Linked DNA regions of Homo sapiens: region 1 is linked to region 2. The links come from fine-mapping of genetic effects on gene expression. Tissue or cell type: lung. Region 2 holds a variant in brackets; the other region holds the start of a gene. All regions are shown on one strand. Distances are from middle to middle.

The links. PIP is the estimated chance that this variant, and not a neighbour inherited with it, causes the effect.
Region 1: ABCC6 starts here. The variant in region 2 is fine-mapped to the expression of ABCC6 in lung (TOPMed, PIP above 0.99). The same link has a PIP of 0.9 or more in cerebral cortex.

The regions. Positions count from the first base shown.
Region 1 is chr16:16,215,379-16,226,961 of GRCh38, forward strand. ABCC6 (ATP binding cassette subfamily C member 6) reads right to left here and starts at 8,116. Exons shown (of 31, transcript NM_001171.6): 1 at 8,021-8,116; 2 at 6,271-6,453; 3 at 4,444-4,569; 4 at 4,176-4,304. The coding sequence starts at 8,056.
Region 2 is chr16:16,193,086-16,209,799 of GRCh38, forward strand. ABCC6 (ATP binding cassette subfamily C member 6) reads right to left here. Exons shown (of 31, transcript NM_001171.6): 7 at 15,643-15,774; 8 at 10,325-10,528; 9 at 8,916-9,093; 10 at 4,936-5,097. It overlaps LOC105371100 (a long non-coding RNA gene), which reads left to right and starts at 15,772. Exons shown (of 3, transcript XR_933131.3): 1 at 15,772-15,859. RefSeq lists an enhancer at 7,186-7,687. The variant G/A (reference allele first, on the strand shown) is at 8,673.

The sequences.
Region 1 (11,583 bases), 20 kb after region 2:
GAAACACCCTAATTTTCTTTCTTTTTTTAATTTAAAGCATTTTTTATTTTTTAATTTTAGGTGTGTGTGTGTGTGTGTGTGTGTGTGTGTGTGTGTATACTTTTTTTTTTTTTGAGACGGAGTCTTGCTTTGTCACCCAGGCTGATGTGCAGTGGCATGATCTTGGCTCACTGCACCCTCCGCCTCCTGGGTTCAAGCGATTCTCCTGCCTTAGCCTCCTGAGTAGCTGGGATTACAGGCATGTGCCACGACCCCTGGCTAATTTTTGTATTTTTAGTAGAGATGGAGTTTTACCATGTAGGCCAGGCTGGTCTTGAACTCCTGACCTCAGGTGATCCGCCTGCCTTGGCCTCCCAAAGTGCTGGGATTACAGGCATGAGCCACCGCGCCCGGCCTGATATATATATTTCTGGATGACGTGAGATATTTTGATACAGGCATGCAATGCATAATAATCACATCAAGGTAAATGAGGTCTCCATCCCCGCAATCATTTATCCTTTCTGTTACAAATGATCCATTCTACTCTTGTAGTTATTTTATTTTTTAGTTTATTATTGAGTTGGAGTCTCACTCTGTTGCCCAGGCTGGAGTGCAGTGGCTTGATTTTGGCTCACTGCAACCTCCGTCTCCTGGATTCAAGTGATTCTCCTGCCTTAGCCTCCTGAGTATCTGAGATTACAGATGTGTGCCAGCACGCCTGGCTACTTTTTTTGTATTTTTAGTAGAGACAGGGTTTCACCATGTTGCCCATGCTGGTCTTGAACTCCTGACCTCAGATGATCCTCCTGCCTTGGCCTCCCAAAGTGCTGGAATTACAGGTGTGAGCCACTGTGTCCAGCCTCTTTTAGTTATTTTAAAATGTACAATTAAATTATTATTGACTATAGTCACCCTGTTGTGCTATCAAATAGATATTATTCTTTCTGTTTTTTTGTACCCATTAACCATCCCCATTTCCCCCACCCACTGTCCTTCCTAGCCTCTAGTAACCTTCCATCTACTCTATATGTTCATGAGTTACATTGTTTTAATTTTTAGCTTTCACAAATAAGTGAGAATATGTAAAGTTTGTCTTTCTGTGCCTGGCTTATTTCACTTAACATCCATGTTGTTGAAAATGACAGTACCTCATTCTTTTTTATGGCTGCATAGTACTTCATTGTGTATATATACCACATTTTCTTTATCAGTTCGTCTGTTGATGGACACTTAGGTTGCTTCCAAATCTTGTTTATTGTGAACAGTGCTGTAATAATCATGGGAGTGCAGAGATCTCTTCCATGTACTGATTTTCTTTCTTCCTAAGTTTTTTGCTTGTGTTCGGGCGTGTGATTTGTGCAGAACTGACTCTACTCCGAGGCTGGGTGGGTGAATGAGGCCTGGCCAACGAATACGTTCTGGTCTTTTGGCTACCATGGCAGGGTTAGGAATGCACATAGCACCCCATGCTGGGTACTTGAGAGCTGGAACCATCGGGAGATTCTGCTGGCTTTGCTACATGCTAGAATGTAAGTGTGAAGGTATTGGTGGCTCTTCTTGCCACTCCATTGGAGAATCAAGCTAACATGGCAGAGCCAAGAGGCAGAAGTGGAGATCTGGTGATGGTACCTGGTCCCAGGCCTGGATCAGTCATGCCTGGGAGATCCCATGGGTATGAGCTAATAAATGCATGAGCTAATGAACCCCCTTGACTTACCCTTTTCATTAAGCTAGTGTGAACTGAGGTTTTATGGCTTTAAACCAGAGCCCTAGTTTTAAATCATGATTCCTCTACTGGATTTTATACTCTTCTAGTTTTGGGTTTTTGTTTGTTTGTTTGTTTTTTGGCAGATAGCAGACAATTGGATATTCCAATGACAATATGGCCCATCTTCCCTAAACTCCCACTGTTTTCCCCACTGTTTCTCTCAGAAAGTTTGTTCTGAATTTGCCTGAGATGAACTCGGGCTCTGCACTCCCAAGCTTTGTGGCCCTGAGGCCGTCATTCCCTTCTCCTAGCCTTAGTCTCCCTCATCTTTAAAATGGGACGGCTAGAATTCATCATTGGCTGGGGCACATTGGCTCAAGCCTGTAATCCCAGCACTTTGGGAGGCTTAGGTGGAAAGATCGCTTGAGCCCAGGAGTTTGAGACCAGCCTTGGGAACATAATGAGACTTTGTTTCTATTTCTATTTAAAAAAATAAAGAACCCATCACTGTGAACTCTTGTGAGAATCCAGTGAGGAGACGTGTGTAAGTGCCTGCCACAGTGCCTGGCACATGGTTGGAACCCCAGAATGTATATGGTCCCAGTATTATTGTTTCTATGCTGTGTCCCAAAAAGCTGACTTATGTCAACTGTGGGAGCCCACCATTTCAGAAATTACTGAATAACCTGTGGAATTTCCCCTTAGTTACAAAGGTTACTCTTTTAAAAACTCTGTCCTCGGTCAGGCGCTGTGGCTCACGCCTGTAATCCCAGCACTTTGGGAGGCCGAGGCGGGTGAGTCACTTGAGGTCAGGCATTTGAGATGAGCCTGGCCAACATATTGAAACCTTGTCTCTACTAAAAATACAAAAATTAGCTGGGCATGGTGGCACATGCCTGTAATCCCAGCTACTTGGGAGGCTGAGGTATGGGAATCGATTGAACCCGGAGGTGGAGGTTGTAGTGAGCCAAGATCGTGCCACTGCACTCCAGCCTGGGCAATAGAGCAAGACTCTGTCTCAGAATGAACAAACAAAAAATAAAAACTCTGTCCTTAAGGACAGGGTGATGCTTCTCTACCTTCTCCTTTAGGGGCAGGATGGAGTAACCACTGGACTGAAGAAATGATCTGTGAGTCCAGACGTGGTGGCTCATGCCTCTAATCCCAGCATTTTAGGAGGCTGAGGTCAGAGAATTGCTCGAGCCGAGGAGTTCAAGATCAGCCTGGGCAACAAAGCATGATGTTGTCTCCACAAAAATAAAATAATGAAGTAAAATATCTGAAACCTGCTGCAGCCTGTTCATTGGTGTTAAGATAACTCCCTCTCCCAGAAGCCTTGGCTAAGCACACTGTCGAGGCCAGTGCTTCTCAATAGGTGGGTGACTTTGTCCTCCTCACCCCCAGGGACACTTGGTAATATCTGGAGACATTTTGGGTTACTGCAATTGGATGGTATGCTACTGGCACCTATGGGCAGAAGCCAGGGATGCTGTTTCACACCCTGCAGCAAACAAGACAGCCCTGTCCACCCAACAAAGAATTGTCTGGCCACAACATTACTAAAGCTGAGGCTGAGGGAAGTTGGTCTAGGCTACATGTTTTTCTCTTTACAGAGAAAATGACCCATCATGTCTCCTAATAGAGAAACGCTGCTTCCGGCCGAATGACAAGAGCTCACGCCTGTAATCCCGACACTTTGGGAGGCCAAGGCAGGTGGATCACTTGAGGTCAGGAGCTCGAGACCAGCCTGGCCAACATGGTGAAACCTCGTCTCTACTAAAAATACAAAAATTTTTAGTAGAAATTTAGTAGAAATTTTTAGTAGAAATTTAGTAGAAATTTAGAATAAGCCAGGTGTAGTGGCACACACCTGTAATCCCAGCTACACAGGAAGCAGAGGCAGGAGAAGTGCTTGAACCCGAGAGGCAGAAATTGCAGTGAGCTGAGATCATGCCACTTCATTCCAGTCTGGGCGACAGAGCAAGCCTCTCAAAAAAAAAAAAAAAAAAAAAAAAAAAAAAGCTGCTTCCCAGATTGGGCAACAGAAATACGAGTGGTGTGCAGAATGAGTGTGTAAATATAGGTGCATAGGAACATGGGGAGGGTGAATCCATGACATGAGGGGAGGTGTGCACGGAGGGGTATGTGTGCACACAGGTGTGTCTGTGCCCAGGTTGTGTGTGTGTGCGTGCATGCATGTACTTGTGCGATGTATGAATCAGTGCCTATAAGTGTGTGCATCGTGTGCAAGTGGCACGTGTGATGTGGGCCTGTAAGACAGGAAATTGTGTTGATAAGAAATGTATGGGATGATGGGTACTGACAGGTGCGGGAGTGGATTTTGTGTCTCTAGAGTGTAAGTGACTGGCTTGTGTGTGTCACTGTATAGAGAATAAGTTGTATGTGGAAACAGGAGGAGAAAGGAAGGGACCCAAGGCATGAGCCACCATTTTGGTTTCCCAGGGTGGCCCACGCCCCGACTTACCGCTCCGGAGGCCTGCTGGGCAGCGTTGGTAGCTGGCAAGACAAAGCAGAGAAGCCAGTAACCAAACAGCACTCCAGATGACTGGACTCCCTTTTTCCTCTCGGTGTGAATCAGGAACACTGCGAAGCTCTGGACGGGAAAGTCAGGGAGGCCCCTTAGGGGAGGGTGGGAGGCTGAGGGGAGCCTCTTCTCTTCCCCTTGTTCTCCACTGTGGCAGGCAAAGCAGCAGCTGGGAGGAAGCCGGGCTCCAGACTGAAGGCATCATTACCATCGTGGTGAGCCACACAGTAGGATGAATGAGGAATTCTGGGGCCTCAGGCGTTCCCTGTTGGATTTTCCAAAGAGCGACAGCCACGCTGGAGGTACACAGGACTATGAGGGCGAATCCAAGCACCTGAGGATACAGGCTTAGATAAGCTTGGGGGGCAATAAGAGAGGTCACAGCAAACTGGTAGGCGGCCCCATGTCCAACTGGGAGCTGGTTCTGCAACATCCTGGCTGATACTGAGTATACCAGGGTCACCAGCTAGCAACGTGCCAATGTGAACAATGTGTAAAGGGCATTGCAGATCACTCCTGACCTGTAACTGTCATATAAATAATGCACAGGAAGGGCTTGAGCCAACCGAGTGTTTTCCAAAATGCAGGAAGTGCTCCAATCGTGCACATATGAGATGACTGTGGGTATGGAGAAACAGCAGGAAATGAAATGTACTCACCAGGTAAAAAACTATCCTTTCTCCAAGTCATTTTTCAATCCCTGCTATGAAATCAAGGAGCAACTCTCTGTTGGGCCAGTAAGTCTCTAGGGTCTCTCTAATATATTTTGGTTTCTCTATTGAATAAAAGAAAGGAAGAAAATGAGAGAACGTGGGCACACCAGAGGGAAGGCCAGAGCTAGGTTACGTTGGAGGAACTGCTCAAAGAACCTCAGTTTAAAGCAGAAGTTGGCAAACTATCAATCATCAAAGAAAAACAAAAAGCATATGTCATGACAGGTGAAAATTACATGAAATCCAAATTTCAGTGACTACAAATAAAGTTTTATTGAAACGCAGTCGGCCGGGGGTGGTGGCTTACACCTGTAATCCCAGCACTTTGGCAGGCCAAGGCAGGCAGATCACCTGAGGTCAGGAGTTGGAGACCAGCCTGGCCAACATGGCGAAACCCTGTTTCTACTAAAAATACAAAAAAATAGCGAGGTGTGGGGGTGGGCACCTGTAATCCCAGCTACTCGGGAAGCTGAGGCAGGAGAATCACTTGAACCCAGGAGGCGGAGGTTGCAGTGAGCCGAGATCGCACCATTGCACTCCAGCCTGGGTAACAAGAGCAAAACTGCATCTCAAAAAAAAAAAACAAACAAAAAAGTAACACAGTCATGACTATTGTCTATGGTTATGACTATTGCGTTCATTCTGGAATGGCAGAGTTCAGTGTTCGGAAGGAAGATTACCTGGCTCACAAAGTCTCAAATACTGTGTACCGCTTGGCTCTTTAAGTTTGCCAACCCCTGGGTTGGTGGCGGGTGATAATGTAAAAATTAATACAATGGCAGAAGAATGAATGAACTCTGAAGAACATTCTTTGGAAGCCTACAAGAATGGAGTAGAAGAGGATGGATGAGCAGAAAGGCTCACACTTGGAATGCCAGTGTTTATTTAACACACTAAGGTAAATACATATCACATATAAAAATTGTCCTATAATACAGCCAGTGGGGGAACATAAAAATAAATGCATAACTTTTTAAAAGGTTCATCCTAATGTGGCTCTAAAATTACCTTGTGTATCCAAGAGTCTACATGGTATGTTTTGGAAAATGCCAGGTTATGGTAGCTATAAACTGTCCAGGAACATGGGAGTGTATGCGTATGTTTGCGCATGCGTGGATTTTCGGAATTACAAAATCTGTTTGGGAGAACCGTGTTCCACTGAGTTGACCTCTGTAGCCTTTCTAATATTGCTCTGTTTGATTAACAGATTCCCTTCTACACCCCGATAGGAGGAGTCTACTTTAAGACTTCACCAGGTTCCAGCCTGTCCCCTGCCTCCCCCGAACATTGCCTGGTTCCAGGCTCCCAGGGATGGCAGCTACCATCTTGGCTTTGAAGAGTGGGGACATCCGGAGGTAGCCCCGGCCATGGTGGTGGATGAAGAGGAGGTAGATGGGACCAAGGACCCAGAGGTACATGGGGGGTACCCAGACCCCTGCTGTTCTCAGGAAGCACAGGCTCAGCAGGCTGGTGGCGGCAGGTTCAGGCTCTGTCTGGTTCCAGACCTGAGGGAACACAAAGAGGACCCTTAGGATGGTACAAGGCAGGGGTCCCCAGCTCACCTGCCCAGGGGGCCAGGCAACTTTTTGGATCTTTAACATTTACACAAAAATGTACCAAGTACTCTTTGGAATACCTACTAATTCTCAATTCCTTTCATCCTGACATTAACCCTAGGTAGTTGCAATTATATTGATTTGCAGATGAAGAAGCTGAGGACCAGAGAGGTTGAGTAACTTTGCTGACTTTACCCAGCTGAGGAGTGGAAGGGCTGGGATTTGAACCCAGGGAACTGGGCCATGTGGTCTAGGAGACCTGGGCTCCATAATCATTGCTAGGCATGGACTGTCAGTTAATCCTTATAACAACTCCAGGACGCAGACAGTACTGTCTCCATTTCAGAAACCAGCAGACTGAGGCACCAGTCGGGGAACTGCCTCCCCCAGGGACACACAAATGGGAAGTGGCAAAGCTGACTCTGACCCAGGCTTATCTGACCCCAAACCTCGTTCGACTGGTGGTCTTGATGTATGATTTGTTTTTATTTTTTATTATTAATTAATTTATGTTTTAGAGACAGGGTCTCACTCTGTTGCCCAGGCTGAAGTGGCACAATCAAAGCTCAACAAAGCTTCGAATTTCCTGGGCTCAAGCAATCCTCCCACCTCGGCCTCCCAGAGTGCTGGGATTACAGGCATAAGCAGCCTCACCAGGCCTGGCTAATTTTTTTTTTTTATGTTTTGTAGAGATGGGGGTCTCTCTATGCTGGTCTCGAACTCCTGGTCTCAAGCAATCCTCCTGCCTCAGCCTCCTAGGTACTGGGATTACAGGCAAGAGCCACCGGCCCAGCTTGATCTGTTATTTTCATCTCAGCAGGTCTGCTGGTCCTATCTAACCCTAGAAGAAATTTGAAGTTTAGTGGACGTGGCCTCTTCAATTCTCTCTCCGCTGTCTTTTTACTCCTCCTGGTTTCACAACTCACCGGCTGTGCAAACTTTAACCTCTCTGTATCTCAGTTTCCTTCCCTGTAAAAGGGGGAAAACGAGACTCTACCTCTATGAGTTGTATTAAATGGATTAATAGCAGCAAAGTTCATAGCAGCATGGCACAAGGTTGGGCACAAGGCTAGGCACAGAGAAAGCCCTCAGTTCATTGCCAGTTTATTGCTTCAACTCCCTGGCCCTCGAAATGCTGGCAGTTTGCAACCCCCACCCCCACTCCATGAACTCCACTCCCTGGAGTCCTTTGCTAAGAGCAATGGAAAAAGAAACCAGAGAGGTAAGGGCTCTCCGGGGGTAGGAGGGCTTGGGGGACCCACTAGCTTTATGCAAAGAAGAGTCAAAGCCCCTAGTAGCTGGGAGGTCTGGTGGCCCCTTAAATAGAGCTGGGCTCTCGGCTGCTGGCTTGGTGAAAGAAATCCAACCCGCTGCAGTGAGGGGGCCGGAGTAAGTCTCCTCGCTTCCCGGGTCCAGGAATTTGGGGGTCTCTCCTCTCCCCAGTATCGCAGCCCGAGAGATCTGCAGCCAAACCAAGCCTGGAAAAGGAGAGTGGGGCGCGATGGGGGGCACTCACCCCCTGCCCCGCGCAGGGCTCAGCAGGCGCGGCCATCGGCGCCTTCTGTCGTCGTGGGTCCCAGCGTCTGTCTGTCGCTAAGTCTCTGGGCAGACTGCTCGGCCGCGATCCTGCCGGAGAAGAGGCGGGGCTGGGCTGGTCGGGCTGGGCTGGTCCGGCTGGGATTCGAGCTCCGGGATCGGGAGGCCCCGGGCAAGGTCCAGCTGCGCGGCGGGAGTGAGGCCACGGGAGGTGAAAACAGGCGAGGTGGGGGATGGGGGAAGAGAGGCGCTCGGGGAGCTGGGACGGGCACCGGGTTGGGGGGTCCCGGAACCCCTGAAAGTTCAGTGACACCTCCATAGTTCCCTCTTCCCCCTGCAACAAGAATCACTCCAGACTTCCTAAACACTTTGGACCCAGCAATTTCCAGGAGTTCATCCTGATGAGAGAACTGAAAGGTGTGCACACGTTAGTAACAAGGAGGCCTGGTGACCGCCTAAGCGTCCAATCGCGGGGACCACCGGGTCGAGGCCGAGAGGATGGAGACCGCGTCACAGGCACCTCGCTGCTGGAATGGAGGGTGGTGGGGAGAACTTAGAAGATTATGCAATGGGCTGGCAGGGCTATACCCAGCCGCCCTGGTAAGCAGAAACTCAAGAAACCTCTAGGGTCCTGTTTTCTGGTCGTATGATCCCAGGAGTGCACATGGGCCCCTCGGGTGTCTGAACAGAAGGGCATAGGAGGGAGGGCCGCAGCCCTGCAGTCTTACTCTGCTGGTGTAGCGGTCACCTGCCAACTCCCACCCCACCCTGCACCGCGGGCTCCTGAGTCGGCAGATTAAGCATTTTATAAATTCTATTTTAAATACGTGTTTTAAACTTGTCAGATATTTGTCTTCATTTCAGTCCCTGCGCCTCTACCTCTTGCTGTGGTCGCTTATTTAACACTGGGGGGCTACGTTCTGCTAAGTCCCAGGGAGAGACTGTTCCTAATATCCGAGGGAGATATTATTCCTAATATCACGCTGGGTGAACACCACGTGTGTACAGCCTCTGATACGATTGGTAATATCCAAGGGAGATATTATCCTAACATCCCAGTGGGTGAACACCATGTGTGTAAACGCTGTGGTATTATTAGAAATATCCAAGGGAGATATTACTCCTAATATCACAGTGGGTGTACATCCTGTGATATTATTCGTAATATCTGAAGGAGATTTTACTCCTAATATCACAGTGGGAGTACACACTGTGATATTATTTGTAATATCCGAGGGAGATTTTACTCCTAATATCACAGTAGGTGTACAACCTGTGATATTATTCATAATATGCTAGAGATATATTACTCCAAATCTCATGGTGGGTGTACACTCTGTCATAGAATTCGTGATATCCTAGGGAGTTATTACCGCTAATATCACAGTGAGAGTACACCCTGTGATATTATTCATACTATCCTAGAAAGATATTACTTTTAATATCACAGAGGGTGTACACCCTGTGATATTATTCATAATATTCTATGAAGATATAACTCCTGATATAACCGTAGGTGTATACCCTGTGATATTATTTGTTATATCCTAGGGAGATACTACACCTAATACCACAGTGGGTGTACACCCTGTGATATGATTTGTAATATCCTAGGGAGATATAACTCCTAATATCACAGAGGGAGTACACCCTGTAATATTATTCATAATATCCTAGAAAGATAATACTTTCAATATCACAGTGGGTGTACACTCTGTGATAATATTCGTAATTTCCTAGGGAGATACTACTCCTAATATCACCTTGAGTGTACACTGCGTGATATTATTCGTAATATCGTAGGGAGCTATTGCTTTTAATTTCACAGTGGGTGTATACCCTATGATATTATTCATAATATCTTAAGAAGGTAGTACTCCTAAAATCACAGTGCCTGTACACACTGTGATATTATTCATAATATTCTAGGGAGATGTTACTCCTAATCTCATAGTGGGTGTACACCTTGTGATACTATTTGTAATGTTCTAGAAAGATATTCCTTTTAATATCACAGTGGGTGTACACCCTGTGATATGATTCGAAATATTCTAGGGCGATATTACTCCTAATATCCCAGTGAATTTACACCATGCGTGTACACGCTGTGACCTCCCAGAAAGATATGACTCCTAATATCACAGTGGGGGTACACCCTGTGCTATTATTTGTAATACCCTATGGATATCATAATATCACAATGAACGTACACCATTGTGTACATGCTGTGATATTATTTGTAATATTTTTGGGTGATATTACCCCTAATGTCACAGTGCGTGTACATCTTTTGATATTATTTGTAATATTCTGTGGAGATATTGCCCCTAATATCACAGTGGGTGTATACTCTTTGATACTATTCGTAACATCCTGGAAGATATTATCCATATTGTCACGGTGGGTGTACACCCTGTGATATTATTCGTTATATTCTGGGGATATACTATTACCCCTAATATACTGTGGGTGTACCCCCTGTGATATTATTCACTATATCTTGGAGATATAATATTACCCCTAATATCACAGTGGGTGTATACTTTGTGATATTATTCATTATATCCTGAAGAGATATTATTTCCTTTAATATCACAGTGCATGTACACCTTGTGATATTATTTGTTATATCCTGGGGAGATACTACTATATTACTCCTAGTATCACAGTGGCTGTACGCCTTGTGATACTATTCATTATATCCTGGGGAGATATTATTACTCCTAATATCACAGTAAGTGTATACCCTGTGATATTATTCATAATATCCTGGGAGATATTACCCATATTGTCACAGTGGGTGTACATCCTGTAATATTATTTGTAATATCCTGGGGAGATATTATTACTCCTAATAGCACAGTGGGTGTACACCCTGTGATATTATTGGTTATATCCTGGGGAGGTATTATTATTCCTAATATCACAGTGGGTGAACATTCTGTAATATTATTCATTATATTTTGGGGAGATATTAATTCCTCTAATATCACAGTGGGTGTACACCCTGTGATATTATTCATTATATCCTGGGAAGATATTAATCCCTCTAATATCACAGTGGGTGTACACCCTGTAATATTATTCATTATATCCTGGGAAGATATTATTTCCTCTAATATCACAGTGGGTGTACACCCTGTGATATTATTTGTTGTATCCTGGGGAGATATTATTATGTCTCATATCACAATGGGTGAACACCCTGTGATAGTATTCGTTATATTTGGGGAAGATGTTATTACCCCTAATATCACAGTGGTGTACACTCTGTGATATTATTCATTATGTAGTGGGGAGATAGTATTACCCATAATATCACAGTGGATGTACACCCTGTCATATTATTTGTTATATCCTTGAGAAATATTATTATTCCTCTTATCACAGTGGGTGTACACCCTGTGATATTATTCGTTACATCCTAGGGAGATATTGTTACCCATAATATCACAGTGGATGTACACCCTGTCATATTATTCGTTATATCCTTGAGAGATGTTACTACCCCTAATATCACAGTGGGTGTATACCCTGTGATAT
Region 2 (16,714 bases):
GATAGGAGGTCGGCACAAGATACAGGTCACAAAGACCTTCCTGATAAAACAGGTTGCAGTAAAGAAGGCGGCCAAATCCCACCAAAACCAAGATGGCTACGAGAGTGACCTCCCGTCATCCTCACTGCTACACTCCACCAGCGCCATGACAGTTTACAAATGCCATGGCAACATCAGGAAGTTACCCTATATGGTCTAAGAAGGAAAGGCATGAATAATCCACCCCTTGTTTAGCATATCATCAAGAAATAACCATAAAAATGGGCAACCAGCAGCCCTCTGGGTTGCTCTCTCTATGGAGTAGCCATTCTTTTAGATCTTTACTTTACTAAAAAACTTGCTTTTGGCCGGGCACGGTGGATCATGCCTGTAATACCAGCACTTTGGGAGGCCGGAGGCGGGCAGATCACCTGAGGTCAGGAGTTTGAGACCAGCCTGGCCAACATAGTGAAACACAGTCTCTACTAAAAATATAAAAACTAGCCAGGTGTGGTGGTGGGCACCTGTGATCCCAGCTACTCGAGAGGCTGAGGCAGGAGAATAGCTTGAACCCAGGAGGCGGAGCTTACAGTGAGCCACGATCGCACCACTGCACTCCAGCCTGGGTGGCAGAGTGAGACTCCGTCTCAAAAAACAAACAAACAAACACTTGCTTTCACTTTATGGACTCGCCCTGAATTCTTTCTTGCACGAGATCCAAGAACCCTCTTTTGGGATCTGGATCAGGACCCCTTTTCTGTAACACAGCTGCAGACCCCGAAGGTGGTCAGACTTGGGTCCTAAGATGGGGATGTCAGGGAATCTGATAAGGGCAGCCACCAGGTCCCAGGGATCTGTGCTCATGGGGTCTGCTGTGTCAGGAGATGCCTGCTGAAGGTGGGGTCCTTCAATGTCAGGGAGGGAAACAGCCCTCTTACACGATAGGGAGAGAGTTATATTCAAGACAGATTGTGCACACACACGAGTGGGACTGGGGGGTGTTCCCAGCCACAACAGTAAAGTTGAGACCTATGGAATCAGGGGACCTGGTTCAAATCCTGACCCTGAGAGTTTTGAGTGTGGCCTTGGGGCAAGTCATCTCCCTTAGGTGCAATTCTCTTGTCTGCAAAATGGGAATAGAGTTGTTCTCATTTGGCATTTTCTCTTATTGCGTTTAATTATTTTCCTAATCTTCATTTCATCCCTCGCAAGGGTTGTCAGATTTAGTAAATCATCATACAGAATGCCCAGTTACATTTGAAGATAAAGAGTGAATAAGGTTTTAGTCTAAGTCTCGTGAAATATTTGGGACATACACTGAGAAATTCTTCCGTTTGTCTGAAACTCACACTTCACTGAATGTCCTGTGTTTTCTCTGGCAACCCTGCTCCCCCACCAACGTGGTGATTTTGGGATGGTTATCTTCCCCCTCTCGGCTTTGGTTTCTATATCTGGAAAATGTGGAAGTGGGGGGTAGAATAAATGATTTTTAAGTTGCTGTGACTTTCTGAGATTTCTGCACAGGTTATTTGGACCCATTCTCTTGACAAGCCCCACCCCAACTCCAGTCTGTGTGCCTCAGTTTCCCGTCTCAGTCCTTAGGAACACTATGTTTATTTATTTATTTATTTGTTTGTTTATTTTGAGATGGATTCTTGTTCTGTGACCCAGGCTGGAGTGCAGTCTCATGATCTTGGCTCACTGCAACCTCTGCTTCCCAAGCGATTCTCCTGTCTCAGCCTCCTGAGTAGCTGGGATTACAGGCATGTGTCACTCGGCTAATTTTTGTATTTTTAGTAGAGATGGGGTTTCACCACGTTGCCCAGGCTGGTCTCGAACTCCTGGCCTCAAGTGATCCACCCACCTCAGCCTCCCAAAGTGCTGATATTACAGGTTTGAGCCACCCCACCTGGCCTGGGAACACTATTTTCTAACATTGGGCCAGTTTGTTTCATTTATGCGGCAATGGCGCTACCTAGTGGCTCAATGGAGAAGGGCGCAGAGGGTAAACACCAGCCCACAGCAGGGCTTGGAAAAACACTCAAGGAATGTGAGCAGAAGATGAACATCTCTGTCTGGGGGAAAAATGGTATCATTAAACTGTAGCAACCTCAGTGTCCACTCCTCCTTCACCAAGACCTCACGGTGATGTTAGGAACTGTCTACCAAGAGGCAGGAAAAGTACACAAGCAAAGTAACATGGTGCATTATCTATGGATATCTTGTTGGTCTCATCTAATTTTTTTTTTTTTTTTTTTTTTTTTTTTAGAAGGAGTCTCACTCTGTCGTCCAGGCTGCAGTGCAGTGATGTGATCTCAGCTCACTGCAACCTCCACCTCCCGGGTTCAAGTGATTCTCCTGCCTCAGCCTCTCTAGTAGCTGGGATTACAGGCACATGCCACCATGCCCGGCTAATTTTTATATTTTCAGTAGAGACAGGGTTTTGCCATGTTGGCCAGGCTGGTCTTGAACTCCTGACCTCAAGTGTTCTGCCGGCCTTCACCTCCCAAAGTGCTGGGATTACAGGCGTGAGCCACCGTGCCCCGCCTGGTCTCATCTGATTTTTAGCAACGGTGGGGTCAACCTGATCAATTGCCCTGAATTTTCCCATGTTCTTCCTCTCTCCCTCTCTTTCTTCCTAATGATGACATTTATGTACTGCACATGAAGCCCTGTCTGAGTGCCTTATGTTGTAATTGCTAAGCACCTGCCTATTGTTTGCAAGGCCCTGGAATACAAGGTGAAGACACTGGAAAAAGTCCTGGCCCCTAGCCTTAGCAAAAACAATCATATGCATGAGCATTCGAGTTTTTTTTGGAATATTCAGCAATTACAATCAAAATGCCATTAACAGTTTTTACAAGGCCAGGCACAGTGGCTCATGCCCGTAATCCCAGCACTTTGGGAGGCTGAGGTGGGCAGATCACCTGAGGTCAGGAGTTCAGGACCAGCCCAGCCAACATGGTGAAACCCAGTTTCTACTAAAAATACAAAAATTAGCCAGATGTTGTGGTGCACGCCTGTAATCCCAGCTACTCAGGAGGCTGAGGCTGGATAATTGCTTGAACCTGGGAGGTGGAGGTTGCAGTGAGCCGAAGTTGTGCCATTGCACCAAAGCCTGGGCAACACAGTGAGACTCTGTCTCAAAAAAAAAAAAAAAATCAAAAGGATACTATTTCACGACATATGAAAATGATATGCACTTCAAATGTCAGCATCCATAAATAGAGTTTTATTGGAGGAATACCATGCCTGTTTGCTTAGTATGGTCTACAGCCACTTCTGCACTCCAAGGGCAGAGATGAATATTTGCAGGAGAGATGGTGTGGCCTCCAGTGTAAAAAGCATCTACTGTCTTATCCTTTATGGAAAAGTAACTAATGATAATATTACAAATACCTACAGGGTGCAGTTGTGTGCCCGGCACCCTTTTAAGTGCTTTCTACATATGGGCTCGTTTAATGCCTCAGCCCCTCTGGGGCAGGAGTGCTACTGTTAATTATGATCCTCACGTTGGAGACAAGAACAGGAGGCACAGAGAGAGTAGGGTCCTTGCACACAGATTCACAACTGATAAGTGGTCAGAAGGAGGATTTGAGCCTAGGCAGTTCCCGATACAGAGTCTAATTTTATTTTTACTTTTATTTATTTGTTGGAGACAGAGTCTCACTCTGTCACCCAGGCTGGAGTGCAGTGGCATTATCTCAGCTCACTGCAACTTCCACCTCCAAGGCTCAAGCGATTCTCCTGCCTCAGCCTCCTGAGTGGATGGGGTTATAGGCACCCACCACTATGCCCGGCTAATTTTTGTATCTTTCAGTAGAGACGGGGTTGGCCAGGCTGGTCTGGAACTCCTGGCCTCAAGTGATCCACCTACCTCACCCCCCAAATTGCTGAGATTATAGGCATGAGCCACTGTGCCTGGCCCAGAGTCTGATTTTAATTTAAAAAAAGAAAATCCTATACCACAACGTTAAAGGAATGAAGTTGGAAAGTAAATGTTTTGTTTGTTTTGTTTGGTTGTTTCCTGATGGCTACTTTGTGTTTTTTGAACACTAAGTAGCAATTTTTCCCCCTAAAATGTTCTCCTCTTGTGTTTTGTGGACAGTGGCTATGGTGGTGCCTCAGGGTTACTGGTAACTTCAAAACATGGTTAACTTGCCTACTGGGTACCCTAATAGCACATGGGGAAGTATCAACGTCATCATCATCATCTTTCTACAGAGGAAACTGAGGCCCAGAGAGGGTGAACTTCCTGCCCAAGGTCAAGTGAAGGTCATCCTTATTGAGGACTTTTCCCATCGTATCAGACAATAGTAGGCAAATTGAGACAGGATTGGAGGAGGAGGAGAAGGAGGAGATGGGGGTGGAAGGGGAGGAGAAAAAGGAGGAGAGGAAGAAGAAAGGGAAGAGAAGGAGAGGGAAGAGCAGAGGGAAGAGAGGGAGGACGGTAGAGGAGAAGAAGGGAGAAGGGAAGAAGTGGGAGGGAAGATGACAGGGAGCAGAAAGGAAGAAGAAGGTGGAGCAGGAGAGAGGAAGAGGAGGAGGAGGGGGAAGGAGGAAAAGGAAGGGGTGCAGGAAGAGGAGGGGGTGCGTGGGCAGAAGGTGGGAGAGATGCAGGAGGAGGGAGGGTGCAGGGAGGGGTGCAAGAGGAGGGGGGCAGGAGGAGGAGGCTGGGGCAGAGGGAGAGGGGAGGAAGCCTTATGAGCTTCTACACCAGGAATGGAATCCAGGGTGATGAAGGCAGAACAAGGGTAAAACCTTTCATGTGCCTCTCTGACACCAACCTGGTTCTCCCACAGCCTCAGACTTGCCCTAACCCTGGGGTCACAGCGGACCTCTTCCAGCCTCTTGAATGCTAAGTCAGGAGGAGGAAGGGTGGGAGGGGGAAGGAGGAGGGGGAGAAGGAGGGGGTGGGGGACTCCGTTCAAATCCCGTCTTCCTCCTCTGGCATACCTGCCAGAGATAGACGAAGCAGACCACGATCCAGACGAGAGGCAGCCACAGCCCGTTGAGGTAGAGGACGCTCTCGGTCAGCCGCTGCACGTCCACGGACACCAGATTGACCACATCACCCACCGCACTGGCCTTTCTGGAGCCGCTGGACAGAGCCAGGACCTGGCGGGTGGGCAGAAGGAGAGAAGTAAAGTGGGGAGGCCGGGGCAGAGGGATGCCCCAGGTGGCTTCTCCACCCACTGAGCCCCACCTCACACGTCTGCGAGGTGGGTGAGTAAAGTCTCTTAGGCCAACCTCTCAGGGCTCTTTGAGGATCCACAGAGATGACAAAAATGAAAATCCTCCAAGATCCCTAAAGCACGGGAGGCATAATAATGAATAACATGCACGAAAACACCAGATTAACACAGATAACGGTGGTCATCTGCCCAGTGCTCACCATGTCGCAGGCACTGTGCTAAATGAACAGCCTTATCCTTTCCCGGGGTGCTCACAGCCATGAATGGTACCAAGCAGGCACTACCATATTCATTCCCTCTAATGCCAGGCCAGGTGCAGTGGCCTCTGCCTGTAATCCCGCCACTCTGGGAGGCTGAGGTGGGAGGATTGCTTGATCCCAGGAGTTCGAAACCAGCCCGCGCGACATAGTAAGACCCAAGCTCTACAAAATACTTTAAAAAATTAGCCAGGGGGCCGGGTGCGGTGCCTCACGTCTATAATCCCAGCACTTTGGGAGGCCGAGGTGGACAGATCACCTGAGGTCAGGAGGTGGAGACCAGCCTGGCCAACATGGTGAAACCCTGTCTCTACCAAAAATACAAAAATTAGCTGGGCATGGTGGCAGGCACCTGTAATCCCAGCTACTTGGGAGGCTGAGGCAAGAGAATCGCTTAAACCCAGGAGGCAGAGGTTGCAGTGAGCCCAGATCAAGCCATTGCATTCCAGTCTGGGCAACAAGAGCAAAATCCATTTCGGGGGGGAAAAAAGAAAAAATTAGCCAGGCATGGTTGTGGTGCGCCTGTGGTCCTAGCTAGCTACTGGGGAGGCTGAGGTGGGAGGATTAATTGAGTACAGGAGGTTGAGGCTGCAGTGAGCCATGTTGGTGCCACTGCACTCTAGCCTGGGCAACAGAGCAAGACCCTGTCTTTAAAAAAAATTCTATGGATAAATTGCTCTCTATTATTCTCTCACCAAGGAAAATACCACTTCCAGTTAAATTAAGACATGTAAGAGACATCTCGATTTTGGAAGTATTAGAGTGAAAAAAAAATGTGAGACGAGAATCAATGAAATGAACATTTACTAACCCCATTCTATGGCTAAAGAAACTGAGGCAGAGAGAAGTTGAGCAACTTGCCCAAAGTCACAGGCCTTGTAAGCTCCTACACAAGGAATGGAATCCAGGGTGACGAAGGCATGACAAGGGTGAGACCTTTCATGTGCTTCTGTGACACCAACCTGGTTCTCTGGCAGCCTCACATCTGCCTTAACCCTGGGGTCACAGTGGACCTCTTCCAGCCTGTTGAATGCTAAATTCCAAATGCAGCCCTCCCTTTGTGACTGCGTGAGGGTGTGAAGAAGTGATCCAGGAATGACTGGACATAGAAATTCTCCACTTAGCAAGTCTTTGAAGAGTGCTCACTGTGTGACTCACACTGAGCTGGGAACTGAAAATACAGCTGTGAACAACAGAGATGAGGCTTGCTCTCCCGGGCCTGGAGTTTGAGGTGGGGAACAAGGCTCTATAATAAAGATTTATATAACTGGCCGGGCACAGTGGCTCACACCTGTAATCCCAGCACTTTGGGAGGCTGAGGCGGGTGGATTGCTTGAGGCCGGGAGTTCGAGATCAGCCTGGCCAATATGGCAAAACCCCATCTCTAGTAAAAATACAAAAATTAACTGGGCATGCTGGTGGGCACCTGTAATCCCAGCTATTTGGGAGGGTGAGGCAGGACAATTGCTTGAACCCAGGAGGCAGAGGTTGCAGTGAGCCAAGATTGCACCGCTGCACTACAGCCTGGGTGACAGAGTGAGACTCTGTCTCAAAAAAATAAGACAAAACAAAAATATTTCTAAAACTCATGCTTTAATGGCAGTTATGATGAGTAACATAAAAAAGTAGCCCAGGCTGAGCGCGTTGGCTCATGTCTGTAATCCCAGCACTTTGGGAGGCTGAGGTGGGTGGATCACCTGAGGTCAGGAGTTCGATACCAGCTTGGCCAACATGGTAAAACCCTGTCTACTAAAAATACAAAATTAGCCGGGCATGGTGGCGCACACCTGTAATCCCAGCTACTCAGGAAGCTGAGACAGGAGAATCACTTGAACCCAGGGGGCGGAGGTTGTAGTGAGCCGGGACTGTGCCACTGCACTCCAGCCTGGGCAACAAGAGCGAAACTCTGTCAGAAAAAAAAAAAAAAAAAAAAGCCCAGAGGTTAGAGAGGAGGGATCTGATCTCATCAGGAGATCAAAGAAGGCCTCCTGGCGTGTGGGTGGGGAATAGGAAGATCAATGCCTGCTCACCAGGCGGCCTTCCTCTTAGGCTCAAGGAAATGTGGACTCTCAAGACAGGATAGGGCACACCTAGCTCTGGCATGCTCAGGGGAACAGGAGCCTGGGATGCAGCACTCTGGCAGGAAAGCATCAAGAGCTGCCCTCTCGGCCACCTAGGAGCTGTCCCCTCTGTCCCCTCCTCCCCTAGGTGACAGCTCAGGTGTCAGGGAATGACACTTACATGGGACGGGACCTGCCCTGGCTCAGATGCTCCATACCCCACAGGAGCCAATAGCTCTTGGGGCAGCAGTCCAGGGACTTAGCTTCCAGAGTCCCAGGAACGGACAAGAGCCACTGCACAGAGAGAAGTCTAAAGCTATGGCCTCCAACCAGGTATTCACAGTCAATGGACAGAACTTCCAGCCCAGATGCAATTTGGGTTTTTTTGTTTTGTTTTTTTTTTGTTCTGAGACGAGGTCTCGCTCTCTTACCCAGGCTGCGCTGTAGTGGCGTGATCTCAGTTCACTGCAACCTCCACCTCCCGGGTTCAAGCGATTCTCCTGTGTCAGCTTCCCAAGTAGCTGGAATTACAGGCACATGCCACCATGCCTGGCTAATTTTTGTATTTTTAGTAGAGATGGGGTTTCGCCATGTTGGCCAGGCTGGTCTTGAACTCCTGACCTCAAGTGATCCGCCTGTCTCAGCCTCCCAAATTGCTGGAATTACAGGCGTGCACCACTGTGCCCAGCCTAGGGGTCATTTTTACCCCAAGCAGTATTGTCTGGGAACACAGCTGACAGGCCACCTTATCAGAAGGTTAATCCTTTATCCTCAAGGGGGAATGAGTGGAAGTTAAAATCAGGCTCAAAAATTAAAATTAGATTGGGGGAGTAGAAGTGGTGCCTAGACAGTGAGAACAGCTGCAAAGGCCCCAGGGTGGGTGGGGGCCTGGAGTGTTTGAGGAACTGAAAGGAGACCTGTGTGGCTGGAGGAGAGTGAGCATGGGAGGAGGTGACGGGATGAGGTCAGAGACACCCTAGGGACAGATCACACAAGACCTTACAGGAATAACTAAGGAGCTGAGACAGATCACTTGAGGCTAGGAGTTCGAGACCAGCCTGACCAACATGGCAAAACCTTGTCTCTACCAAAAATATAAAAATTAGCTGGGCGTGGTGACACGTGTCTATAGTCCCAGTTACTCAGGAGGCTGAGGCAGGAGAATCACTTGAACCCGGGAG[G/A]CGGAGGTTGCAGTGAGCCGAGATTGCACCACTGCACTCCAGCCTGGGTGACAGAGCAAGACTCCATCTCAAAAAAATAAATACATATAATACAGAGAAATAACTAAGGAAGTGAGAATGTATGGTGAGTGACTCTAATAAGCAAGGACTGAATGCGTTCTCAGCTGCTGATAACATTACTGCCCGCTCAGTGATACTGCTTTTCCTGGCTGGGAAGACCTGCCCTTGTCCCCCAGGGCTCACCTTTCTGTACACCAGGCCAGTGATGGCCGACCGCAACCTCATCTGCAGCACCTTGAGCCTGTACATGTTCTGCTGCTCAAACAGCGTTTGCAGGCAGGCTGAGAGGAACATCAGCACGGCGAGGAGGTAGCCCTTCCAGGCTGGAGGCTTGGGATCACCAATAAACTCCAGGAAAAGGCTTGCAGGGGAAGGAGGGAGAAGGTACAGCTGGTGAGAGGAGGTGCCTAAGGGTGTTGCCTTTGCCCAAACCAGTCCAGATGTGGAGGATCAGTCGGCCCAAACTAGTCCAGGTGTGGAGGATCAGTCAGTGTGGTTTTTTTTGCAATAATGGTCTCCGTTATTTCCCCCACTGTCCATACTCCTTTTCAATCTGACTGCAGCTCCTCAAGATCAAGAGGTGGAGTTTTTGTTCCCACTTGTTATAGGCTAAATTGTGTCCTCACAAAGTTTATATGTTGAAGCCCCGACCCCCAGTACCTCTGAATGTGACTGTATTTGGAAATAGGGCCTTTAAAGAGGCAATGAAGTTAAAAATGAGGTCATTAGGCTGGGCCCTAATCCAATCTGATGGGGTCCTTTTAAGAAGAGGAAATGTAGACACACAAGGAGACACCAGGGGGCGCAAACAGAGGAAAGACCATATGGGGACACAGGGAGGAGGTGGCCAACTGCAAGCCAAGGACAGAGGCCTCAGATGGAACCACCTTGCAGATACTAATCTCGAACTTCCAGCTTTGAGAATCATGATAAAATACATTTCTGTTGTTCAAGCCACTCAGTCTCAGTCTGTGATGCTTTGTTATGTCAGCTGAGCAGACACCACTTGAATCTGGGCTGGCTACAAAACCGGCTTTGGCCAACAGAGTACAGTGGAGGTAAAGCCATGCTGGCTCTGAGCCTAGGCCTCAAGAGAAAATGTGGTTTTTGGTCTATTTCTTAGAACCCTCCCAAGCACCCACATGAACAAGTCTGAGCTAGCCTTTTGGAGGATGGGGACCCACATGGAGCAGAGACAGCCATCCCAGTCTCAGATACACAACTGCAGGCACATGAGAAAACCCAGCCAAGAAAAGAACCACCACCCAGCTGAGCCCAGCCCACATTACTGACCCACATTACCATGAACTAAATAAAAGAATGTTTGTCATTTTAAGCCACTCACTTTTGGGGCATTTTACAGCAAAAACTAATTGATGCAGTCAGGTAAGAGCTTGCTTATTTGCCCTTCTGGGGGTCAGTCACTTTCTCATTAATCCATTTCCCTTCCTCAGTGTCCTTCTCACCCACCATCCAGTGTCCCGAGCACCAGACGTATAGGCAGAGGCAGGAGAGCTGAAGCCCCCTGGCCCTGGAAGGATGCCACTAAGAGACCACCCACCTTAGCAGGGCACTTGAGGTCTGGGACTCACCTGAGCAGCTTGGGGACAGTGAACCTGAAGACATCACTGATGATGAGGCTGAGGGTCCCCAGGAGGAAGGTAGAATGGAACACCTGCCAGATGGCCTTCAGCAGTGGGCGCCACTGGCTCCCTTCTTGCCGTAGGAAGGGCTCGGTCTCTGGAGCCTTCATGCCACTGCCGCCTTTCCTTTTAAATGCTATTGCCTTGTTGTGCCTGAGGGGAAGGGAGAGATTAGCTCTGGGTCCCATTTTATACTCTCAGCCGCCAGCGGCAGGGCCAGGCATTAAAGGGTTGTTTTCCCAACAGTGGAGATGGGTGGGTGTGGATCTAGCCTGGCTCCCTCACCTGTTCCTCCTTATCACCCTGAGTACCCACTTAAGAGGCAATCATGGGAGTTGGGGGGCAGGGCAGGAGGGCACTCTGAGGCCTCTTAGATGGCCATGGGAAAGCACACCTGTTGAGCACCTACTATGTGCCAGGCACTCCCCAGTCATCCTAAGACCCCCTGAGAAGCCAGGTGTTGTTCCCATTTCACAGATGAGAAAACTGGGGCTCAGAGAAGCGAACTTGCCCAAGGGCACACAGCTGAGAAGTAAAAGAACTGGAATTTGATTCCAGCTCTCTGCCTCCAGAGCCCATGCACTTTTCTTTTTTCTTTTCCTTTTTTTTTTTTTGAGACGAAGTCTTGCTCTGTCGCCCAGGCTGGAGTGCAGTGGTGTGATCTCAGCTCACGGCAACCTCCACTTCCCAGTTCAAGTGATTGTCCCACCTCAGCCTCTCGAGTAGCTGGGATTACAGGCAAGTGCCACCATACCCAGCTAATTTTTGTATTTTCAGTAGAGAAGGGGTTATGCCATGTTGGCCAGGTTGGTTTTGAACTCCTGACCTGAGGTGATCTGCTCGCCTTGGCCTCCCAAAGTGCTGGGATTACAGATGTGAGCCACCACACCTGGCCTCTCATGTACTTTTCAACCTATCGTGTTGTCAACCTGGAGGAAGAACAGCACCCCGTCCCCAACACACACAATCAGCCAGCCCTTAGGTGGTTTTGAACTGGTGGAGAATCACGGCTGATGGGCATGGGGCCTGGTGCTCTAGCTCTGGGTGAAAGTGCAGACAGAAGCTCAGGCTGCCTCAAACTAATAAGATCCCCAGCCTTTGGCTATAACCAGGGGCCACAGAGAAGAGCTAAGGTGAGGGAGGGAGAGGAGGAGATGGGGGAGGCCCGAGGGCCCCTGTGAGGCAGGTCAGAAGCCCTGGGCCAGAAAGGAGAGGCTGGGGCGATGCAGCTGCTGACAGTCCGGTTGCTGTGTGGTCCTGGGCGGGGACACTGCTCCTCTCTCTGTGTGTGAGAGGATGGGTGTGGTCCCCTGCTGAGTCCCCTGTGGCTCTGACAACCTATAAGGTTATCAGTAATTTCTTTTTCTTTTTCTTTTCTTTTTTTTTTTTTTTGAGACAGAGTTTCGCTCTTGTCGCCCAGGCTGGAGTGCAGTGTAGCAATCTCGGCTCACCGCAACCTCTGCCTCCTGGGTTCAAGCAATTCTCCTGCCTCAGCCTCCCAAGTAGCTGGGATTACAGGCACACACCACCATGCCTGGCTAATTTTTGTATTTTTGGTAGAGACAGGGTTTCACAACGTTAGCCAGGCTGGTCTTAAACTCCTGACCTCAGGTGATCCACCTGCCTCGGCCTCCCAAAGTGCTGGGATTACAGGTGTGAGCCACCATGCCCGGCCACTTATCAGTAATTTCAATCCCCATTACAGATCTGTGACCCGGGGCCACGTGCTGGGATCAGCTCTTTACACGAAGGAGCTCACTGACTCCCCTGGATCCCCTTGCCAGGTGAGCATTATTAGGTTTTCCATTTTACAGAAGGGGAAGCTGAGGCTCTGAGAGATGGCGACAGCCGCCCGAGGTCACACAGCAAGGGCAGAGCAGGGATTTGAGCCTAGATCTTGATTTATGGTTTGTAAAGGGTTTCTTGTGCACTAAGGACCCCCAACCTCACCATAATAAAATAATAATAAAAAAAGAAGCATAAGAAAAACCTCTGGTGAGCTCAGGTGGCCAGACCCTTCAAGGCCAAGGTCTCTGTCCCACATTATTGGTCTGATCTGGTGTTTGGTTTGGCATCTATGGAGGGTTGTGGTTCAGCTCTGTTACTGAGTGGGTGTGGCCTGCTGCTCACAAATATTTTGGCATTTGGATCTCAAAGCCAAGAAGATGCCCCTTCCATACAGAGAGCATCCCTGCCCACCCTTTCCTGTTTGATCCTGCCATTTAATTCATTGCCTTCACAGCCATGTCCATGGCTCCAACCCTCTCTTTGTCTCGTTAGAACCCCAGGTGGGTAGACTTTGCCTGTGTTTTCCACCAAGATGTCCCTAGTATAGAGTCCAGCTCCTGCACACAGTAGGAGCTCAATAAACACTTGTCAAATGAATGGGAAAAACAGATTGAGTGATGTGTGCAAAGGGCCTAATAAGAGTGCCCCCTGCACATACTGTTATAAAAATTTATAGAAGGAAGGAAGGAGCTTGGCTGGGTGGACAGAACTTGGCTTTGGAGCCAGGAGACTGTGGTTCCAATGCCTGCTCTGTCTCCTCTCCTCTGAGCCTTAGTGTTTCCATCTGCAAAATGGGGTCGGGGAAGAGTTCACTGGAAAGTTTTCTTTCTGGCTGAGGTTCTGCTCAGTTCTATTTGAGCTGTTTAACCCAGAGAGTCAGTGTGTTCAGCCTGCAGGCTCCATAGCAAGTGTTTTCCTCTCCTGCAGGTCTCACCTCCCATCAAGGAAGATGTCCAGATTGCTGTCTGACGTCTGGTCTCTGGACTGAAGGCCATTTAGTGCAGATCTCACAAATGATGGTGGGGCAAGGCAGGGGGTATGCATGAGTGGCATGGGCAAGGTGTGAGTTGGGGGATACAAAAGGGAGTGGTGGAGGCCGGGCACGGTGGCTCACACCTGTAATCCCAGCACTTTGGGAGGCCAATGCGGGCGAATCACCTGAGGTCAGGAGTTCAGGGCCAGTCTGATAGCCTGAGCAACATGGAGAAACCCCGCCTCTAATAAAAAATACAAAAATTAGTGAAGCCGACTGGACCAGCAGGTGGCTGTTGTGTGGCCTCTCAGGAGGACGCCCTCTCCCTTCCCCCAGTGGTTGCAAAATACTTCAGAAAGAAAACCAAAGTTCTCTGTGGGTGCAGTCGGTTGTTTCAGAAGCTGACGGAGCCTGGTCTTTGTATAACCCCATCTTTCCCCTTTCTTTCTGTCAACTGTTTATGGGAGGATTCTCAAACTGTTCTGGAGAATGTTTCTACCCTTTAGTTCTAGTGTTGGGTGACCTGTAATTTTCATGTTGGCTGGGGATGCCAGGAGTTGGCAGAGGCTCCTTCCAGAGCCCCTGTGGACTGGATTCTGCCACTTCCGTAAAATCATTCAAAAGTAGAGGGTGAGTCAGGTGCAGTAGCTCACATCTGTAATCCCAGCACCTTGAGAGGCCAAGGCAGGCAGATCCCCTGAGGTCAGGAGTTCAAGATCACCCTGGCCAACATGGTGAGACCCTGTCTCTACTAAAAAAAATTTAAAAATCAGCTAGATGTGGTGGCACACGCCTGTGGTCCCAGCTACTCAGAAGGCTGAGGCAGGAGAATTGCTTGAACCCAGGAGGTGGAGGTTGCAGTGAGCTGAGATCATACCACAACCCAGTGAAGGGGGTCCAGCAAGCCATGCCTGGGGTGAGAGAGAACTGATGTTTTGGTTCTCTCACACTACTTATTCTGTTTGGAAAAACACATGCCCTTCCTTTGTGGGAACAGCCCCTACCCACTTCTGTGGCTCTGAAGGGACCACCAGTCATGGCACCAGCCCCCTGGGCATGGGATTGGCCCCTGACAGGCACATGACTTGAGCCAGGCCAATTAGAGGCCTTCCTTGGGATTTACTATATGGACGTTAGGAGAGAGATGCTCTCTTATTCTGCTGGAGTTTGCTGAACTTGCATGGGAAGGGATAGGCCTTATGGAGAGACCAACACATAGATAATAGTTGGGATGGGAGATGAAAGGAGAGAATCCTGACATCATTTGAGTCCCCTGATCCAGCAACACCTGAGGCTAGATCCTCTTAGCTGTGTGAGCCTATAGTATCAGTCTCTGTCTCCTCTGTCTCTCTTAATGTGTGGGATTCAGCCATCTGCAACAACTACCACAAAATCCCGGAGTATGCAGGGAACTTCCCACAGAGCTAACTTCCTTTTTTGTTCTGTCTCCTAAAACACCAAGATCCGGTGAGGTTAAGCAACGTGTCCAAGGTCATCACTATTTGAAGGCAGGGCAGCATTTAACCCAATTTTATCTAATCCTATGCAGGCTCATTTATCTAGACCAGAGTTTCTCAAATGAGGCATCCCAGGCTCTAAGGGCTGCAGAGAAGTTTCCAGAGATGCCACTGAGGGCAGGAGTGGACAGAGTGGATAACTCCAAAGATCTTAACACCCTCTGGATGACTAACAGTGCTTGAGCACTTCCCATTTGCAAGACATTTGCAAGTTCTTTTCCATAAATCATCCTTTTTTTTCATCCCCATAAGCTATGAGCTGGGGCTAATGACATCCCCACTGAACAGATGAGAAAACTGAGGCCCAGGAAAGGAATTGCTCAGGTTATATAGTAAGTGAGCAGCTGCTTGTGTGTTGAGTCACCTCCCAACCCTCCACCCCGGCCTTAAAATACCTCTTCTGTTTGCTGCCTGTCATTCTGCCATTTCCCCATTTGTAGGAACCTGTTTGTTCCCCGTTTGTAGGAACCTGTGATGCGTTCTGGGAGGAACCATATCTTAAGCCTGATACTACTTAGTGGGATCAGCTGGAAGGCAAGGTGGGGAGGCGGCAGTGCCGCCAGAGTAGCGTTGGGGGCTGGACTGGGGGTCAAATGATGAGGTTTTTTTGTTTTTGTTTTTGTTTTTGTCTTGTTTGTTTGTTTTTTTTTTTGATACGGAGTCTGGCCCTGTCACTCAGGCTGGAGTGCAATGGTGACATCTCCACTCACTGCAACCTCTGCCTCCTGGGTTCAAACGATTCTCCTGCCTCAAGCCTCCTGAGTAGCTGGGATTATAGGTGCCTACCACCACGCCCAGCTAATTTTTCTATTTTTAGCAGAGATGGGGTTTCACTATGTTGGCCAGATTGGTCTTGAACTCCTGACCTTGTGATCCGCCTGCCTCGGCCTCCCAAAATGCCGGGATTACAGTCGTGAGCCACCGCACCCGGCCAATGATGAGCTTTTCTGAAGTAGCATCAGGTGAGTTCTTGACCTCCACCCACTTACCTCCGGGCTGCACTGCGGTTCCTCATCCACTCCTTTTCAAGCCGGGAAACAAGTTCTTCTGAGGAGTTTTCTCTCCCAAGCGACCAGAGGTCTTTTGGTCTCAGTGGCCTCCTGTATCCCCTCCAGACCAGGCTGCAAAAGAGGGGCACCAGGGAAAGCTTTTCCTGCCATTCACCCCTGCAGGATCCTGGCCAGGCGAGTAGCTGTGTGACCCTGGGTAAGTCACTTTACCTCTCTGTACCTCTACTGGCCCCTGGGTAAAAAGAAAGCAATTCACTAACCCCACCTAATGTCTGCAGGGCATTTCTCGTTTCACAAAGATTGTCTCATTAATTCTTACATGAACCCATAAGGTAGGTTATTATTGTTTGTTTGAGATGGAGTCTTGTTCTGTCTCCCAGGCTGGAGTGCAGTGGTGCAATCTCGGCTCACTGCAACCTCCACCTCCCAGGTTCAAGCGATTCTCCCACCTCAGCCTCCTGAGTAGCTGGGATTACAGGCACCCACCACCATACCCGGCTAATTTTTGTATTTTTTGTAGAGATGGAGTTTCACCATGTTGGCCAGACTGGTCTCGAACTCCTGACCTCAGGTGATCCACCTGCCTCAGCCTCCCAAAGTGCTGGGATTACAGGCATGAGCCACCACACCCAGCCTGTAAATTGATAGTTTATAATTGTATAAATGTATGAGTATATTATTATAGATCTATTTTACAGATGGGGAAGGAAATAGAAGTGCAGAGAGATTCAGTGGCTAAACCAAGGGATAGCCCTTGGCAAGGGAAACAGACATTTCCCTGGGAATCAGAAGTCCGTTGACCAAAACTATCATTGTAGAAGAAGCTTGAACTCCTCCCTCAGCTTTTTTTTTTTAATTATTATTATTTTTTTTGAGATGGAGTCTCACTCTGTTGCCTAGGCTGGAGTGCACTGATGTGATCTGGGCTCACTGCAACCTCCGCCTCCCTGGCTCAAGCGATTCTCACGCCTCAGCCTTCTGAGTAGTTGAAATTACAAGCCACCATCACACCTGGCTAATTTTTGTGTTTTTGGATGGTGTATCACCATGC